Linked DNA regions of Homo sapiens: region 1 is linked to region 2. The links come from fine-mapping of genetic effects on gene expression. Tissue or cell type: thyroid. Region 2 holds a variant in brackets; the other region holds the start of a gene. All regions are shown on one strand. Distances are from middle to middle.

Evidence for each region. PIP is the estimated chance that this variant, and not a neighbour inherited with it, causes the effect.
Region 1: LHFPL5 starts here. The variant in region 2 is the best candidate, but not a certain one, in a credible set for the expression of LHFPL5 in thyroid (GTEx, PIP 0.87).

The regions. Positions count from the first base shown.
Region 1 is chr6:35,799,948-35,808,471 of GRCh38, forward strand. It overlaps LHFPL5 (LHFPL tetraspan subfamily member 5), which reads left to right and starts at 5,405. Exons shown (of 4, transcript NM_182548.4): 1 at 5,405-6,135. The coding sequence starts at 5,724. RefSeq lists a silencer at 5,274-5,443.
Region 2 is chr6:35,946,773-35,956,947 of GRCh38, forward strand. SLC26A8 (solute carrier family 26 member 8) reads right to left here. Exons shown (of 20, transcript NM_052961.4): 17 at 8,380-8,748; 18 at 4,673-4,727; 19 at 4,391-4,575. Among named protein-coding and RNA genes, the nearest start is that of SRPK1, 31 kb to the left of the region's middle. The variant A/C (reference allele first, on the strand shown) is at 5,453.

The sequences.
Region 1 (8,524 bases), 150 kb before region 2:
ATGAGCTACCATGCCCAGCAGGGAGCAGAGTTTTTGAAGATAACTTGGTGGGTGGGGGGAAGCCAGTGAGCCAGGGGTGATGATTGGTCAGAGATGAAATCATAGGGACTCAGAGCTGTCTTCGTGCACCCAGTCAATTACTGGGTGAGGGCCACAAGATCAGATGAGCCAGTTTATTGATCTGGGTGGGGCCAGCTGATCCATCAAGTGCAGGGTCAGCAAAATATCTCAAGCACTGATCTTAGGAGTAGTTTAGGGAGGATCAGGATCTTGTAGCCTCCAGCTGCGTGACTCCTAAACCATAATTTCTAATCTTGTGGCTAATGTTAGTCCTACAAAGGCAATCTAGTCCCCAGGCAAGAATGAAGTCAGCTTTGGGAAAGGGCTGTTACTGTCTTTGTTTAAACTATAAACTAAGTTTCTCCCAAAGTTAGTTCAGCTTACGCCTAGGAATGAACAAGGACAGCTTGGAGGTTAGAAACAAGATGGAGTCACTTAAGTTAGATCTCTTTCACTGTCTCAGTCATAATTTTGCAAAGGTGGTTTCAGAATGAGGAGAAAACAAAGAAAATGACCCCCTTTTGAGCACTCCGTAGCTTTTATGGCACCTCTACCTGACAAAGTTTATGTAAAATGGAAATAACGTGGTCTTTGTGCACATTTACATTAAGGAAAAAGAGCCCTAAGGTTGACCTGCAAACTATAGAATTCCTAAGTCATCTTTTTCTCTATTTTTCTTTTCTGCCTGCTCTAAATCTTCCTTCCTTCCTTCCTTCCCTCCTTCCTTCCTTCCTTCCTCCCTCCCTTCCTTTCGATGGAGTCTCACTCTGTTGCCCAGCCTGGAGTGCAATGGCACAATCTCATCTCACTGCAACTTCTGCCTCCCGGGTTCAAGTCATTCTCCTGCCTCAGCCTCCTGAGTAGCTGGGATTATAGGTGCCTGCCACCACACCCAGCTAATTTTTTGTATTTTTAGTAGAGATGGGGTTTCACCATGTTGGCCAGTCTGGTCTGGAACTCCTGACCTCGTGATCCGCCCACTTTGGCCTCCCACAGTGCTGGGATTACAGGCGTGAGCCACCGCGCCCGGCAATCTGCTGTTATTTTTCTATTAAGAGAAAAACCACTGTTTAGATCCAACAAGTTCTTTTTGCAAGCCAGGTGAATTTGTATTTATTTCATGGCTAAAAGTTCTGAAGTAAAAGCTACAAGGTGTGTGTGTGTGTGTGTGTGTTTAAAAGGCCTTTATAATTTCCATACTTTTATGTTTAATTGGCAATTAAATCTGTTTTAATTTCCCTCTAGAACACCAGACTTTTCTTGGCGCACCTTATAATGTAAATTTTGCTGTTTGACTTTCATCTGAACTGTTTCCTTTAATATGCAAATTTAAGGCTATTTAGCTGTCAACTGCCTAGGGTTGTGAAAGAGGTTATCAAGAATTTGATAACTCTTGAGGTCAGGTGTTTGAGACCTTCCTGGCCAACCTGGTGAAACCCCGTCTCTACTAAAAATAGAAAAATTAACTGAGGATGGTGGCAGGCACCTGTAATCCCAGCTACTCGGGAGGCTGAAGCAGAAGAATTGTTTCAATTTGGGAGGCAGAGGTTGCAGTGAGCCAAGATTGCACCACTGCACTCCGGCCTAGGTGACAGAGCGAGACTCCATCTCAAAAACAAACAAAAAGAATCTGAAAGATTAAAATAGGAAAAAAAAAGGTTTTTATAAATCTGTAAGATGTACTTCTATAGGCATGCCTGATATGTCTATGTATTTATGGGTGGTGTGCACAGTGTTTCACTACTGAAAATAAATAAAAGAGCTCTAATTGGCTTAAGAAAATAAAAGCACTTGAACACTTTATCAGGAAAAAAGACTAGTCAAATGCTGTTTCAAGTTTATGTAATGTAAGTAAAATCTTTAATACATAAGCTAGCTTCAAAATTATTATTAATGTTGGGATTACAGGTGTGAGCCAGCCACTGCACCCAGCCACTTTTTTACTATTAAAAACAACCTGAGCCAGGTGCGGTGGCTCACGCCTGTAATCCCAACACTTTGGGAGGCCGAGGCGGGCAGATAACTTGAGGTCAGGAGTTTGAGACCAGCCTGACTAACATAATGAAACCCCATCTCTACTAAAAATACAAAATTAGCCAGGCATGGTGGCACATGCCTGTAATCCCAGTTACTTGGGAGGCTGAGGCAGGAGAATCGCTTGAACCTGGGAGGCGGAGGTTGCAGTGAGCCGAGACTGTGCCATTGCACTCAAGCCTGGGCATCAAGAGCGAATCTTCGTCTCAATAAAACGAAACAAAACAAAACAAAATTAAACAAAACAACCTTACTGGCCGGGCACAGCTGTAATCCCAGCACTTTGGGAGGCCAAGGCGGGCGGATCACTAGGTCAGGAGTTCGAGACCAGCCTGGCCAACATAGTGAAACCCTGTCTGTATAAAAATACAAAAATTAGCTGAGTGTGGTGGCTCACGGCTGTAGTCCCAGCTACTTGGGAGGCTGAGGCAGGAGAATCACTTGAATCCGGGAGGTGGGTGGAGGTTGCAGTGAGCCGAGATTGCGCCACTGCACTCCAGCTTGGGCAACAGAGTGAGACTTCGTCTCAAAAAAAATAAATAAAGTGAAAAAGTGAAGGGCCAGGCTCAGTGGCTCAAGCCTGTAATCCCAGCACTTTGGGAGGCCGAGGCAGGTGGATCACTTTAGGTCAGGAGTTCGAGACCAGCCTGGCCAACATGGTGAAACCCCGCCTCTACTAAAAATACAAAAATTAGCTGGGTATGGTGGCTCATGCCTGTACTCTCAGCTACTTGGGAAGTTGAGACAGGAGAATCGCTTGAACCCGGGAGGTGGAGGTTGTAGTGAACTGAGATTGAGCCACTGTACTCCAGCCTGGGTGACAGAGCAAAACTCTGTCTAAAAAAAAAAAAAAAAAAAATGTGAAACTGACAAAACATACCAAAGGGAAAAAAAGTAATAGGAGAAAATATTAACATTATAATGCTAAGTGAAAAAAATGTACATACGGCCGGGCACGGTGGCTCATGCCTGTAATCCAGCACTTTGGGAGGCCGAGGCAGGTGGATCACCTGAGGTTGGGAGTTCGAGACCAGCCTGACCAACATGGAGAAACCCTGTCTCTACTAAAAATACAAAGTTAGCTGGGTGTGGCGGCCATGCCTGTAATCCCAGCTACTCAGGAGGCTGAGGCAGGAGAATCAGTTGAACCAGGAAGGTGGAGGTTGCCGTGAGCCAAGTTCGCGCCACTGCACTCCAGTCTGGGCAACAAGAGCAAAACTCTGTCTCAAAGAACAAAAAACAAAACAAAACAAAAAACTAGCTGGGCATGGCAGTGCATGCCTGTAATCCCAGCTACTTGGGAGGCTGAGACAGGAGGATCGCTTGAACCAGGGAGGCGGAGGTTGCTGTGAGCCAAGATCATGCCATTGCACTCCAGCTTGGGCAACAAGAGTGAAACTCTGTCTCAAGAAAAGTAAAATAAAAATAAAATAAAATAAAATAAAATAAAATTGTACATACATCATCCAATTGTGTAAAGGAGTATGTTCAGAAGGGGGAAACTGCAGAGATTAACAATGGTAATAATAATAATCACCAACATTTTTGAGTACTTTCTCTTTTTTTGTTAAAGCCCAGACTGGAGTGCAGTGGTGTGATCATGGTTCACTGCAGCCTCGACCTCCTGGGCTCCAGTGATTCTCCCACCTCAACCTCCCAAGTAGCTGCGACTACAGGCAAGCACCACCATGCCTGGCTATGCCTGGCTAAGTTGTGTATTTTTTGTAGAGACGGGAGTCTTGCTATGTTGCCCAGGCTAGTCTAGAATTCCTGAGCTCAAGTGATCGGACTGCCTGGCCTCCCAAAGTGCTGGGATTAGAGACCACTAATGTACCTTTGAGCACTTTAAAAAAAAAATTATTATTATTATTTTTTGAAATGGAGTTTTGCTCTTGTTGCCCAGGCTGGAGTGCAATGGTGCGATCTCAGCTCACTGCCACCTCTGCTTCCCGGGGTTCAAGCAATTCTCCTGTCTCAGCCTCCTGAGTAGCTGGGAATACAGGCACCCGCCACTACGCCCGGCGTAAGTGCATTTCCTGCATTTAATAGATGGCGAAACTGAGGCTCCGGAAGGAAGGTTAAGTCCATGGATGGTTACTTAGTAAGTAGCTCATTCAAATCCAGGCCTGTTGAACCCCAAAGTCCATGTTTTTAAGATTGTCTTGTCTTTCCTTAGCTCCGGACGTTGGTGTTATTATTATTATTATTTTTTTTTTTTTGAGACGGAGTCTTGCTCTGTCACCCAGGCTGGAGTGCAGTGGCGCGATCTCGGCTCACTGCAAGCTCCGCCTCCCGAGTTCACACCATTCTTCTGCCTCAGCCTCCCCAGCAGCTGGGACAACAGGCGCGTGCTGCCACGCCCGGCTAATTTTTTTGTATTTTTAGTAGAGACGGGGTTTCACTGTGTTAGCCAGGATGGTCTCGATCTCCTGACCTCATGATCCGCCTGCCTTGGCCTTCCAAAGTGCTGGGATTACAGGCGTAAGCCCCACGCCCAGTGGAATTTTCCTAGTTCTTTACACTAGCCATGTATTTACCTATAAAATCAGGAGAAATATGTATATATATAATATATTAAAACATATATATATTTAAATGGGGAAATATGTAACAAACAAATAGAAACAAGGGGAGAAAGGCATTGTATTTGACAAAACACATATGTTCAGGTCTGAGAAGGCTCATAAAGAATGTTGTCTGCTATACTTTGTAGTTGCTTCTGTTATCACACAATCAGTCTGCATATACAGGCGTTTTATATATATATTTATATAGACTACATATATACGTATATTATATATGTAAATATTTCACTGTCTTTGAGGACGGGGGCCCTGTCTTTTTTATCTGTGGTTTTGCTTAGATGTCCTCCAACATAATCTTAACACATAGTATGCTTTTAGAAATCGTTGACTGAATGCTAAGGACGAAAAACCGGTGACCAGAAGGCAACCAGGAAAGGCTTTGCTGACCTCCGGAGTGGTGGAGTTGGAGGTTCTGGGAAGGCGACTAGGGAGCCAGGCAGGGGCGGGGTGGGATGGGATGTGGACAGCGCTTTTGCGGGGGGAAAGCGTTTTTGCTGCTGGAATTGAGCAGTAGGAATGTGTCAGTCACATCCCCACCTTCCCAATTCTTGTCATCTCGGTTCAGGAAGGTGAACGGTGTTCCGATTCCCCGCGGCGGGGGCCTGTAGTGGGAGCTCTGCCCCTTCCCCGCCTCTGCTGCAGGCCCCGCCCCTCGCCCGGAACCCCGGGGCGCTGGCCGCGGTGCTGAAACGGCGCCCTCCGCGGACGGAGGAGGGGGCGGGGCTCTCGGGAGCCGTGAGCCGGGAAGAGGGAGACGGGCAGGGCGGCGCCAGCAGGCCCTGGTGGGCTTGGGAGGAGGCAGGAGACTGGAGACAGCCTCGGCTAGAGCGGACACAGGCACCTGGCAAGCTTTCCTTGACCAAATCAAGGTTGTCCTTGTCCTATTAAGCCTCTTCCCCTTGCCTTGAAGGGACCTCACCTGGTGCCCTGACCTCAGCCTCCTCCCCAAACCCCGCTGGGGAGTGACCTGCTTCTAGGCCTCCATCCACAAAGCTACGGACTTGCAGCCCACGGGACCCCAGCCCAGGGCCTGCTGCCCTCACCATGGTGAAATTGCTGCCGGCCCAGGAGGCAGCCAAGATCTACCATACCAACTATGTGCGGAACTCGCGAGCCGTGGGCGTGATGTGGGGTACCCTCACCATCTGCTTCTCCGTACTGGTCATGGCCCTCTTCATCCAGCCCTACTGGATCGGCGACAGCGTCAACACACCGCAGGCAGGCTACTTCGGCCTTTTCTCCTACTGCGTGGGTAACGTGCTGTCCTCCGAGCTCATCTGCAAGGGCGGCCCCCTAGACTTCTCCTCCATCCCCTCTAGAGCCTTCAAGACTGCCATGTTCTTTGTGGCCTTGGGCATGTTCCTCATCATTGGCTCCATCATCTGCTTCAGCCTGTTCTTCATCTGCAACACGGCCACAGTCTATAAGATCTGTGCATGGATGCAGCTGGCTGCGGGTAAGCAGAGATGGTGGGAGGGCAGGCAGGGGCCCACCCCGGGGCCACAGCTGCAGCTGCACCATCCCAGCCTCTGCCAGGGCTCTGGGCCTTAAATTTAGCTGTTCTCCTATAGCCCAGTCCTACTCAGTGCTCTGCAGAAGATTCTGAGGAGTTGAGAATCTTAAAATGGCAGAGGCAGAAAAGACCTTAGAGACCAAGCTGTCCAACCCTCTCATCCTACAGATGAGGTTCTGAGCCCAGAACCTCATCTGAGCCCAGAACCTCATCTGTAAGGGGAAGTGACTTGCCCAGGAGCACACAGTTGCCAGTCCTGATTCCCAGGCCATCACATCAGTTTTTGCAGCTGTGAGAGAGAGAAAGAAGGAAGCTTCCATTGTTGGCCATGTGGGAATAGGACTCAACCCTAGCACAAAGTAGTGACACCAGTCAAGCACATTCTAGATGCCTTCATCTCCCACCTCTGGGCTTTTGTTCTTTTTAAGAGTGCCCAGAACTCTGTCCTCATTCTCTCTCTCCCACTCCAAACTGCTCTCAGATTCTAAGGTCTCTTGCTGATTTTGGAGTGTTACTATTATGCAGGGTATGACCTTGCCTATAGAAACTTTCATCTAAATTCCCCTCTTTCATTGTGGAGTGAAAGTCTTTTTTCCTTGATCATGGGATTTTATACTTAAGGCAGCAAATGGAGTGATATTTTGTGAGGTAGAGGAAGCTATTTAGGGTCCTTTTGTTGTTGTTGTTGTTTGTTTGTTTTTTGAGACAGAGTCTCACTCTTTGGCTCAGGCTGGAGTGCAGTGGCATGATCTCAGCTGACTGCAGCCTCAACCTCCTTGGACTTAGGTGATCCTCTCACATCAGCCTCCCAAGTAGCTGGGACTCCAGGTGCGCACCACCATGTCTAGCTAATTTTTTTTGTATTTTTTGTAGAGACGGGGTTTTGTCATGTTGCCCAGGCAGGTCTTGAACTGCTGGGCTCAAGTGATTTGCCTGCCTCAGTCTCCCAAAGTGTTGGGATTTCAGATGTGATCCACAGCACCTGGCCTAGGGTCCTTTAAAACAATGTGGGGGCTGGGCACAGCGGCTCACACCTGTAATCCCAGCACTTTGGGAGAGAGCATCACTTGAGCTCAGGAGTTTGAGACTAGACTGGGCAAGATGGAAAGACCCTGTCTCTAAAAATAATAATAATAATAATAAATAAAATAAAACAAATAAAACTGTGGGGTAGGCAGCTACTTGTGCCTTGAGGCAAAACCTCCCTGGTCCTTTTTCCTGCTTCTAGCTCAGGAAGGCTTCTTGGTCCTTGTGCCAAGTGGTCTTGCTCTTCTCTGTAGCCCAGGAAGAGGGTTAAGACCTTGTGCTGCAGCCTCTGGTACCTTGGTCCCTGCACACCTCAGGGGCCACAAACTGTCCATGTCGGTGAGATGTCCAGGAGTAGTGCCGGGGACTGGAAACTAGAGTGAAACCATCTCATTGGTCAGAATGAGAAGTGCTGTCATCTTTAAGAGGGAGACTGAAACAGGCATCTGAATCCCAGACCACCAAACATGCAGATTCAAGACTGCAGAGTTGGAGGGGACCCCAGAGAGCTATATCCACCCCCCAACTATAGATGAGGAATCTGCTGCTGAGAGAAAGGACCAGACTTGGCCAAGGCTGTAGCAGATCAGCAGGCACCTGAGGACCAGGAAGAATTAAGCGGGCAACTGAGGACCAAGGAACTAGATGTATTCCTAAGATGTTTTTACTGAGCCACATATTTACATAAGTATAATGATCTATGAAATATCTTTACATATAATATCTGGAGGAGCCCCAGCACAACCCATTGAGGTGGGTATTTATCTATTTTACAAAGAAGGCCCCTAGTGGGTAACTTGTCTTTGAGCATACAAGTAGGAAGGCATGCACCTTTGATTCCAAATCTTGCACCCAGGCTACTCACATGGCTTCAGAGTTCCCAGCAAATCCCCTTGCCACCTCCCTGTTCTCTGTAGTCTCTCTGTATGATAAGAGAGAGGCCGGGGCAGGGGTGGGCAGTGGGGAGCAAGGTAGGTGGTGGCCATGTCAAGAATGATGGTGGGGGCAGGCACAGCGGCTCATGCCTGTAGTCCTAGCACTTTGGGAGGCCAAGGAGAGGGGATTGCTTGAGGCCAGAAGTTCAAGACTTCAAGACCAGCCTGGACAACATAGTGAGACCCTATCTCTATTTTATATATATATATATATAAATTAAAAATAATCATAATAAATAATATATATAAATAAAAATAATAATAAGGCCAGCTGCAGTGGCTCAGGCCTGTAATCCCAGCACTTTGGGAGGGCGAGGTGGGCAGATTGCTTGAGCTCAGGAGTTCGAGACCAGCCTGAGCAACATGGCGAA
Region 2 (10,175 bases):
AAACTACTGGGCTCAAGCAATCCTCCTGCCTCAAGCTCCCGAGTAGCTAGGATTACAGGTATGCACCATCATACCTGGCTGATTTTTAGTTTTTTTTTTCAAGATAAGAGTCTCACTATGTTGTCCAGGTTGCTCTGAAATTCCTGGCCTCAAGTGATTCTTCTGCCTCAGTCTCCCAAAGTGCTGACATTACAGGCATGAGTTACTACGGCTGGCTGATATGTCCATCTTAAACCAGCATCACCACTAGTCTTTTATTTTTTAATTTTTTTTTGAAACAGGGTCTCGCTCTGTTGCCCAGGCTGGAGTGCAGTGGCAGGATCTCAGCCCACTGCAACCTCCGCTTCCTGGGTTAAAGTGATTCTCATGCCTTGGCCTCCTGAGTAGCTGGGGTTATAGGCACGCGCCAGCATGCCCAGCTAATTTTTTTGTATTTTTTGTAGAGACAGGGTTTTGTCATGTTGGCCAGGCTGGTCTCAAACTCCTGGCCTCAAGTGATCCGCCTTCCTTGGCCTCCCGAAGTGCTAGGATTGCAGGCATGAGCCACCACACTTGGCCACCACTAGTCTTAATAGAGACACACAGGATCCTTCTCATTAAATTCAGGAGTAAGACAAGATTCATCATTATTACTTGTTCTGAGAGGTTTAGTTAATGCAATAATATATGATATTGAAATAAGAATTCTAACAATTGGAACATAAGAGATTAGTATTATTTTTAGAAAATATTTTCCTATTTGGAAAACCCAAAGGAATTAACAGTGAAACCTCTTAGGAATAGTAAAGTGATTCACAAAGGTAGCCAAATAATTTAATAAAAACCAATGAGTTTCCTATATGTTAGCAATTGCCAGTTAGAAAATATAATGGAAATGGCCAGGTGTGGTGGCTCATGCCTGTAATCCCAGCACTTTGGGAGGTGGAGGTGGGTGGATTGCTGGAGCCCAGGAGTTTAAGACTAGCCTGGGCAACATGGCAAAACCCCGTCTCTGTGAAAGATACAAATATTAGCTGGGCATAGTGGTGTGCGTCTGTACTCCCAAATACTCAGGAGGCTGAGGTTGGAGGATTGCTTGAGCCTGAGAGGCCGAGGCTGTGGTGCACTGTGATCATGCCACTGCACTTCAGCCTGGGTGACAGAGTGAGACCCTGTCTCAAAAAAACAAAAAAGTAAAACATATAAAGTATCTAAGATTTTCCCATGTGAAGAAAGTCACAAAACCTTACTATGAATGAAACATTTAAGAAGACAATAAATGTAGAGACAGTTCATGTTTCTGGATAAGAAGAATGAATACTATAAAGATATAAATTCTCAAGGGATTTTATATTTTTAATACAACTCTAATGATTATTTCAATAAGATTTGTTTTTGTGGGGTGGGGACCTGACAAAAGATTCAAAAGTTGGTTTGGAAGAATAAATTGGTGAGAATGACTTAGCAAATTTTGAAATAGAACACTGATGACATAGGACTTCTTAACCAAATGTTAAAGTGTATTATACAGCAATACTAATAAAAACAGTGTGATGGCTAGGCACGATGGCTCACATCTGTAATCCCAGCATTTTGGGAGGCTAAGGTGGGCAGATCACCTGAGGTCAGGAGTTCGAGACCAGCCTGGGCAACATGGTGAAACCTCGTCTCAAATAAAAATACAAAAATAAGCCAGGTGTGGTGGCGCATGCCTGTAAGCCCAGCTACTCAGGACGCTGAGGCAGGACAATCACGTGAACCTGGGAGGCGGAGGTTGCAGTGAGCCGAGATTGTGCCACTGCACTCCAGACTGGGCGACAAAGTGAGACTCTGTCTCAAAAAACAAAAACAAAAACAAAAAACACTGTGATACTGAAGCTATACAGAAAAATGACATCCACAACTAAACTAGAAATACACTTTAGTTTTCATAAGAATATAATATTTTATGAAAATAACATATCAGTAGGGGAAAGAAGGCTTATTCAATAGATGGTTGGATGGTGGTATGATTTGCATGAGTGGCTTCCAAAATCCATCCACATTGTGGTGGTATTAAGAGGTGAGGCCTTTGGGGAGTGATTAAGTCATAAGGGCTCTGCCCTTGTGAATGGATTAGTGCCTTATAAAAGGGCTGGAGGGCTAGCATAAACCCTTTTGTCCTTCCACCTTCTGCCATGTGGGGATGCTGCTGAGAGAAGATGGAAGAAGCCCTCAGCAGACACTGAAACTGCCAGGACCTTGATCTTGGACTTCTCGCATTCAGAACTGTGAGAAATAAATATCTATTATTTACAAATTACCCAGTCTCAGATATTTTGTTATAGTAGCACTAATGAACTAAGATAGATGGCATATAGCCCAAAATAGTTAGCTACATAGATAAAAAATAAAGATTAAGCCTGAGTGCAGTGGCTCATGCCTGTAATCCCAGCACTTTGGGAGGCTGGGGCGGGTAGATCATGAGGTCAGGAGTTCAAGACCAGCCTGGCCTACATAGTGAAACCCTGTCTCTACTAAAAATATAAAAATTATCCAGGTGTGGTGGCGGGCGCCTGTAGTCCCAGCTACCTGGAAGGCTGAGGCAGGAGAATCGCTTGAACCCAGGAGGCAGAGGTTGCAGTGAGCCGAGACCATGCCATTGCACTCCAGCCTGGGTGACAGAATGAGACTGTCTCAAAAATAAAAAAAAAATAAAGATTACCCTTCAATACCTGTATACTGAAATACATTCTATTTACATTAAAGAGTATAACATATAAAAAATAAAAACATAAAAATCTAGAAAATGTGTCTTATTTACCTTCTAAGAGGGAATGACTTTCTAAATAAAAAGTAAATATAATAAGAAAAGGAAACATTAATAGATATGACTAAATATGTAAAAACAAATATATCGAGTATCATAATTATAAATTAAAAAATAGAGAAACTTCCATTTATAGTAAAAGCAGACTGCATAATTCAAACCAATTAGTTAGTCATTACTAATTATTAACTACTAGTTAACTAGTTGTTTTTTTATTAACTACCAGTTAACTAGTTGTGTGTGTGTGTGTTTTTTTGTTTTTTTTTTTAGAGTCTCACTCCGTCGCCCAGTCTGGAGTGCAGTGGCGCGATCTCGGCTCACTGCAACCTCTGCCTCCTGGGTTCAAGCGATTCTCCTGCCTCAGCCTCCCAAGTAGCTGGGACTACAGGCGCGTGCCACCACGCCCGGCTAATTTTTTTGTATTTTTAGTAGAGATGGGGTTTCACCAGGATGGTCTCGATCTCCTGACCTAGTGATTCGCCTGCCTTGGCCTCCCAAAGTGCTGGGATTACAGGCGTGAGCCATCTCGCCCGCCCGTTGTACGGTCTTAACTGTTTCAGATGTGGTGTCTCATTTCATCAACTAGGCTTTGTTTAATAATGATTTCTAGTCATTAGATAATATTAGATAATATTTTAGTGCCCATCTGTTTTAATTTCCTTTTTTTGTTTTTGGAAACCTTTAACCTACACAGGTACTGATTTGAAAATGCTAAAGTAGGCCCAGGTCTCAGTATTTTTTTTTTTTTAGACAGAGTCTCACTCTGTCGCCCAGGCTGGAGTGCAGTGGCGTGATCTCAGCTCACTGCAACCTCTGCCTCCCGGGTTCAAGCAATTCTGCCTCAGCCTCCCAAGCAACTGGGACTACAGGTGCCCGCCACCATGCCTGGCTAATTTTTGTAGTTCTAGTAGAGAAGGAGTTTCACCATGTTGGCTAGGATGGTCTCGAACTCCTGATCTCATGATCTACCTGCCTCGGCCTCCCAAGGTGCTAGGATTACAGGCGTGAGCCATCGCACTCAGCCAGGTCTCAGTATTAATAAAAGGCTGAAAATTCAGACTTATATATTATTCTCCTTTGCATTTGGTCAGCTTGAGTAAATCTCATACCACAACAATGTAAAGGTAATAAAGCTGAGGTATTAGACAAGATTATAGATCTGAATCTCTGCTAGTTCATTAGTATTATTATTCATCCCAAGAGTGGGTGGGGTGGGGAGGAATTCTAAAGGTATAGCTAGGGGAGACATTTAGAATATTTAGCAACTGGTAATAGACACTAACCAAGAATGCTGTAGAAGGATCCTTGAGGTCTGTGCTGGGTTGGGCAAACCCTCTCTTCAGTTAGGGAAATTTCTTGAATGGAACCCTGATGCCATGACAGTGAGGGCACTTGGCTGCTCAGATCCACTGCTATTTACCAAGTGGTAAGGGTGCATTTCAACATCCCAGATTCTGGTACAGCCATACTAAATACCTTTCCTGGACATTATTCCTCTATCTGATCAGGAATCCTGACTCCCAGCCCCCAACCACCCCTCACCCATCCCCCCACTGCCCTCAATCCCTTCCCCCAACCTCATGCTTTGTCGGTTTGTCTGACCTTGTCTGTTTCTGAGTAGGTTTCCCGTATCACTGTCTCGGATTCATCGATGCTTAACTCAGAGGAGCCTATGACCTTCCTTGACAAGGCAAACAGCACGGCGTCGTGAACGCTGAGGAACAGCTGGGTCTTGGTGATGCCAGCGTCAAAGAAATCATTCCTCTCAAATGCCCTGACTATGGAAGCTAAAAACCAAACCCAGAACACACACAATGTCAGATACTTGGGGAGCAGAGGACCCAGGGTGCAAAACAGCCCTCTCATAGGGTGAAGGATACTCACAGTGACACCCTGCAATGAGTATCAAAATGTTGGCGTTTTGAAAGGCATTGCATATCTGTGGGGGGAGAGAAAACCAGTATCAGAAGGCTTTATACTTGCTAGGAAAGGCCTTCTAATTAGCTAAGTTTTTGTCTTGTTTTGTTTTGGTTTTTTGTGACAGAGTCTCACTCTGTCACCCAGATGGAGTGCAGTGGCATGATCTCGGCTCACTGCAACCTCCGCCTCCCAGGTTCAAGTGATTTGTCCACCTCAGCCTCCCAAGTAGCTGAGACTACAGGTGCATACCACACGCCTGGCTAATTTTTGTATTTTTAATAGAGACAGGGTTTCACCATATTGGCCAGGCTGGTCTCAAACTCCTGACTTCGTGATCTGCCTGCCTCGACGTCCCAAAATGCTGGGATTACAGGCGTGGGCCACTGCACCCAGCCAATTAGCCGAGTTTTAAAACCCCTTTGGCCCTTCACTTGTCTGGGGGTATATGTACCTTGCATCCCAATTCAGCTCTACAAACATTTGATGAGTGGAGTTCTCTATGCCGGAAAACATCTACAGTGCTGGGAATGCAAAAGAGAATCAGACCGTGTCATGTGAGGGTGGGGAGCAGGAGGGAGAGCTGCCCATAGTCTCAAGGGGATAAACAGTATATATCAAGACAGGACGTCTGCAGGAGGAAAGCCCTAGCATAGAGACAGGCACAGGTGTGAGGCAAACACTCTGGAGAATCATCTCAAACAACCATATTTTGGCATGATGGCCTAGTGTTTGCATGAGACCCCC[A/C]CTTCCCCCTGGAGTTTACTGAGCAGAGGAAGCAAGATGTGGCTCAGAGACGCTCAAGTGATGCAGTAGGGAACGGAATTCAGAAACCCTGAGGGTCACATTCAGAGCTGCCTTGCAAAGTTGCATTTGATTTTAGTAAAACATCAGATGTTTACTATCAGATAAGTAAACATCAGCTACTGTCCTCAAGTTTGCTTCAGCCAATATATACACTGTGGGGCAATAAATCTTGAAGTTCACTTCAAAGCAAATCAATATCGACTTTAATACTTAAGACTAAGTAGACACCAACCCTGAGCACTAAGTTAAAGTGTCAAAAGAAACGAACTCTGCTTCTTTCACTACCAAGAGGAAATGAAGTCATTCTTGATCATATGGCAAATCACAAAGTCATTTGGCAAAGGGCCACAACAGACTCTAAATGACAAGTGCTGGAAAAGGAAAGTCCCATGAATTAGGAAGAAGTTTAATCTGAGTGGCTGTCTCCAATAAGAATGGACTGATGGGTAGGCTGAGCGCGGTGGCTCATGCCTGTAATCCCAGCACTTTGGGAGGCTGAGGCAAGCAGATCACGAGGTCAGAAGTTCGAGACAAGCCTGGCCAATATGGTGAAACCCCGTCTCTACTAAAAATACAAAAATTATGCGGGTGTGGTGGTGTGCGCCTGTAGTCCCAGCTACTCAGGAGACTGAGGCAGAAGAATCACTTGAACCCGGGAGGTGGAGATTGCAGTGAGCCGAGATCATGCCACTGCACTCCAGCCTGGGCGACACAGCAAGATGCTGTCTCAAAAAAAAAAAAAAAAAAAAAAAATGGACTGATGGATTTTTCTTAGGTTCCAGTTTTCAATTATAAAGTAAATAGAATGATTTCTTCCAATAAGGAGGCAGTATACACAACTACAAAGGAAATGAAGAAACCTGTATTTTTAGAGTGCAAAAGTACACCATGAATCTCTGAAGGCTGAAAGTGAAAGGCGTCTGACATTGTCTCCATGTTGGGGATGGAACAGAAAGTCATCAACATGGGCCAGGTGTGGGTGGGTGCTGCCAAGGACCAGAACATATGGTGCCTCTACAAAAAGAGGAGGAGCAAGGGAGACAATGGCACAACTATACCATGGAACAGAGAGAAAGTATGATATAAAGTCAGATACTTAAAAGTTTCAATGCTGGACAGGCCACTTATGAGCTGTGAGCCTCAGACTCTTAGGGGAAAGTATGGCCTGTCTCTCAAGGCAGTTGTGAAAATTACATGAGATAGTGTATATACATGTGCCCAGCTCAGTCTGGCACGTAGTAGACACTCAGCAACGTGGGCTGAATAAAATCTAAAGTAACAACTACAGCCCAGGACCAGGAGGGGAGAACATAGCCCAGTAGAATAAGATGGAAAAGCCCAAATAACAACAGATTTTCAAAGTATAATTGAGTCAGAAAGTGGTGTTGAAAAATAAAAGGATCTCATGGATGGGAAAGCTCTTAATCTCTTCCAAACCTCTCATTTTGTAGATTAGGAAACGGAGACCCAGTTCAATTTAGTAACTTGCCTCGGGTCAGAAGGACAGTGAGCCAAGACAGAGCATACATCCCAGACTGCAAACCAGAGTTCTTTCTGCTATGAAAAGCTTCCTTTTGCCCCAGACCAAAGAGAAGCTGGACTCACTTAAGAGGCAGTCGTATTCCCTTAGGAGTAAGAAAATATGACAAAATAGGTTCTGAGGATAAAAGAAGGAAAACCATCCAAAGGCACAAATCTCAAAAGAGGTGTGCAAATCTCAAAAGAAGCACTCAAACACCATGAGTGTTCAGGATGTTCAAACCTGAGCCATCACCAAGAGGGAGACAGAGTGCTGTAAACTGGGATAAGCTGGCTAAAAAGGAATATTATACTTATGAGGCATTAAACAATGACATCAATATGGTTAGCTGTGCACTTAAACTGTCTGTACCATATAGGAGGAAGACAAAAGAGAACTGTTAGAGAAACCCAAGAGTAGAAAAGAAGTCAGGACCCGGGGACACAGCTTTTGAAGGGAAAATCATCCTTGTCCTTTTCACCTGATGATGTGTCAGTGAGGAAGGAAGTGGGGAAGACCCTGCAGGTACTGGACAGCCAGCCCCAAGTTTGAGGTGTCATTTCATCCCAACGTCTTCAAACTGGAGTACAAGACAGCCCAGTGCCTTTTACAGTGCTGGCTCAGATCAGCTGAACTGTGGAGAATTCCTGGTGAGCTGCTTTTTTTCTGAAGCATTCAGACCTATTCCTTGAAGAGATTTGCAGCTGACTCCCAGGATGTTCTGGGAGTTACTGGGCGTGGCACAGATTGCTGTTTCAGTGAAGTTCAGAGTGTCCTGTTTTTCATTTCTTGAGAAATAATAATGTTTTATGCTTACCAAACCAACCGCAGCTCAATACATCAGAATTGGTTCATTTTAGGCTGGGCATGGTGGCTCACGCCTGTAATCCCAGAGCTTTGGTAGGCCGAGGTGCGCGGATCACTTGAGGTTAGCAGTTTGAGACCAACCTGGCCAACATGGTGAAACCCCGTCTCTACCAAAAATACAAAAATTAGCAGGGCGTAGTGACACATGCCTGTAGTTCCAGCTATTCAGGAGGCTGAGGCAGGAGAATCTCTTGAACCTGGGAGGTGGAGGTTGCAGTGAGCCAAGATTGTGCCACTGCACTCCAGCCTGGGCAACAGAGTGAGGCTCCATCTCAAAAAAGAAAAAAGAAAAAAGAATTGGTTCATTCTCTTTTTATTTTGATTGACCTTATATTGTACTGCCTTTGGTGTCCAAGGCTCTGGTGGCCTAGCAGTCTCATAGCAGCTGATCAGTGACTAACAGAATTCAATCAGGATCAGGGTGGGGTTGGGATGGTAGGAGGGGGATCAGAGCTCCTGCCAAGGCCTCCTCAGTACTTACCTGTCTTAATACGACTAACCCCCGTGAATCCACGTAGTGTACCATGGAGAAATCCAGGATGATGGTGTGGACACTGGGCAGTAGAGACGCATCTGAGTAAGGGATGAGTGATCTCCTCCCCTGGCTTTCCGCCACATCAGGCAGTCCTGGTGAGCTGTTTCTTGATGAGTTATTAGGAAGCCAAACTTCCTCCACCTCCTCATACTGTTGCCCTTGATTTTTCTGAGACACGGACGATACTGTGTATGGCACTTGGTCTTCGGATGCAGTTTGGCTTGTGTTCATGCTCTCAAAATGTGAGCAGTGAATCAGGTTAATGGAGGATGCTTCGGGATCCAGTTTATTTTCAAATCGCTCTGTGTAAAGAATCTGGGACGACAGAGTTAAGGGAGGGCTGTGGTAAGACACCAACAAGGGCCGGAAGGACTTGCAACGATGCTATTTCTTGTCTCTGCCAGCTCATGTCCCTCTCTCATGAAACTTCTCCCGAGAGTAGGTACTGTGCATTTTTTACTTGGATATCTGTCACTTCAAGCTCACAACTGAAGCCCCCACAGTCATCTTTCCTCATCTTCACCACCCACGACACCCCCCTCCCAACTTCTGATGTTCATCACTGTCCCAGTGAGCCAGACTTAAAACATCTTTTACTCCTTTTCCTCATGCTTGGGTCCTAGTTAGTCTCCAGTGCCTACTAATACTTTGTGTGAAGTATTTTTTTCCCATCAGTCCCTTGTCTCAGCACCCTCTTCCTTCATCAGTGCAACAGTCTCCTTTCAGACTTCCTTAAGACAAAAAGCACTTGAAGGCTGGGTGCAGTGGCTCATGCCTATAATTCTAGCACTTTGGAAGGTCAAAGCAGGTGGATCCCTTGAGCTCAGCAGTTTGAAACCAGCCTGGGCAACATGGCAAAAATCTGTCTCTACAAAAAATACAAAACAATAAAAAATAAATAAGAATAAAAATAGCTGGGCGTGTCAGTGAGCCTGTAGCCCCACCTACTGGGGAGGCTGAGGTGGGAGGATTGCTTGAGCCTGGGAGATGAAGGTTGCAGTGAGCCAAGATTGCACCAGTGCACACTCCAGCCTGGGTGACACAGTGAGACCCTGTCGTGCCCCCCTGCCCCCTCCCCAAAAAAAGCTGGCACACGCCTATTGTCCCAGGTACTCAGGAGGCTGAGGTGAGAGGATCGCTTGAAGCTGGGAGGTTGAGGCTGCAGTGAGCTGTGACCACACCACCACACTCCAGATTGAGCAACAGAGCAAGACCTTATGTCCAAAAAAAAAAAAAAAAAAAAAATTACATGAGCAAGGCTGTCTTTACCACTGCTGTCAACCTCCTAAAGGCCCAGACTGCCTGCTATAGCTTAAGGACAGTAACAAGGACCAGGAACACAATGATGTGCAGGATGCAAATGTGGACTCTGCATTTACAGGAACCAGACTCTACCTGGCAGTGTGCACACGTTCATTGAAGGGATAAGTAAGGCCAGGCATGGTGGCTCACACCTGTAATCCCAGAACTTTGGGAGGCTGAGGTGGGTGGATCATCTGAGGTCAGGAGTTCGAGACCAGCCTGACCAACATGGCGAAATTCCATCTCTACTAAAAATACAAAGTTAGCCAGGTGTGGTGGTGCATGCCTGTAATCCCAGCTACTTAGGAGGCTGAGGCAGGAGAATCGCTTGAACCCAGAAGGCAGAAGTTGCAGGGAGTTGAAATTGTGCCATTGCACTCCAGCCTGGGCAATAAGAGCAAAACTCCATCTCAAAAGAAAAAAAAAAAAACAAAAGCTGG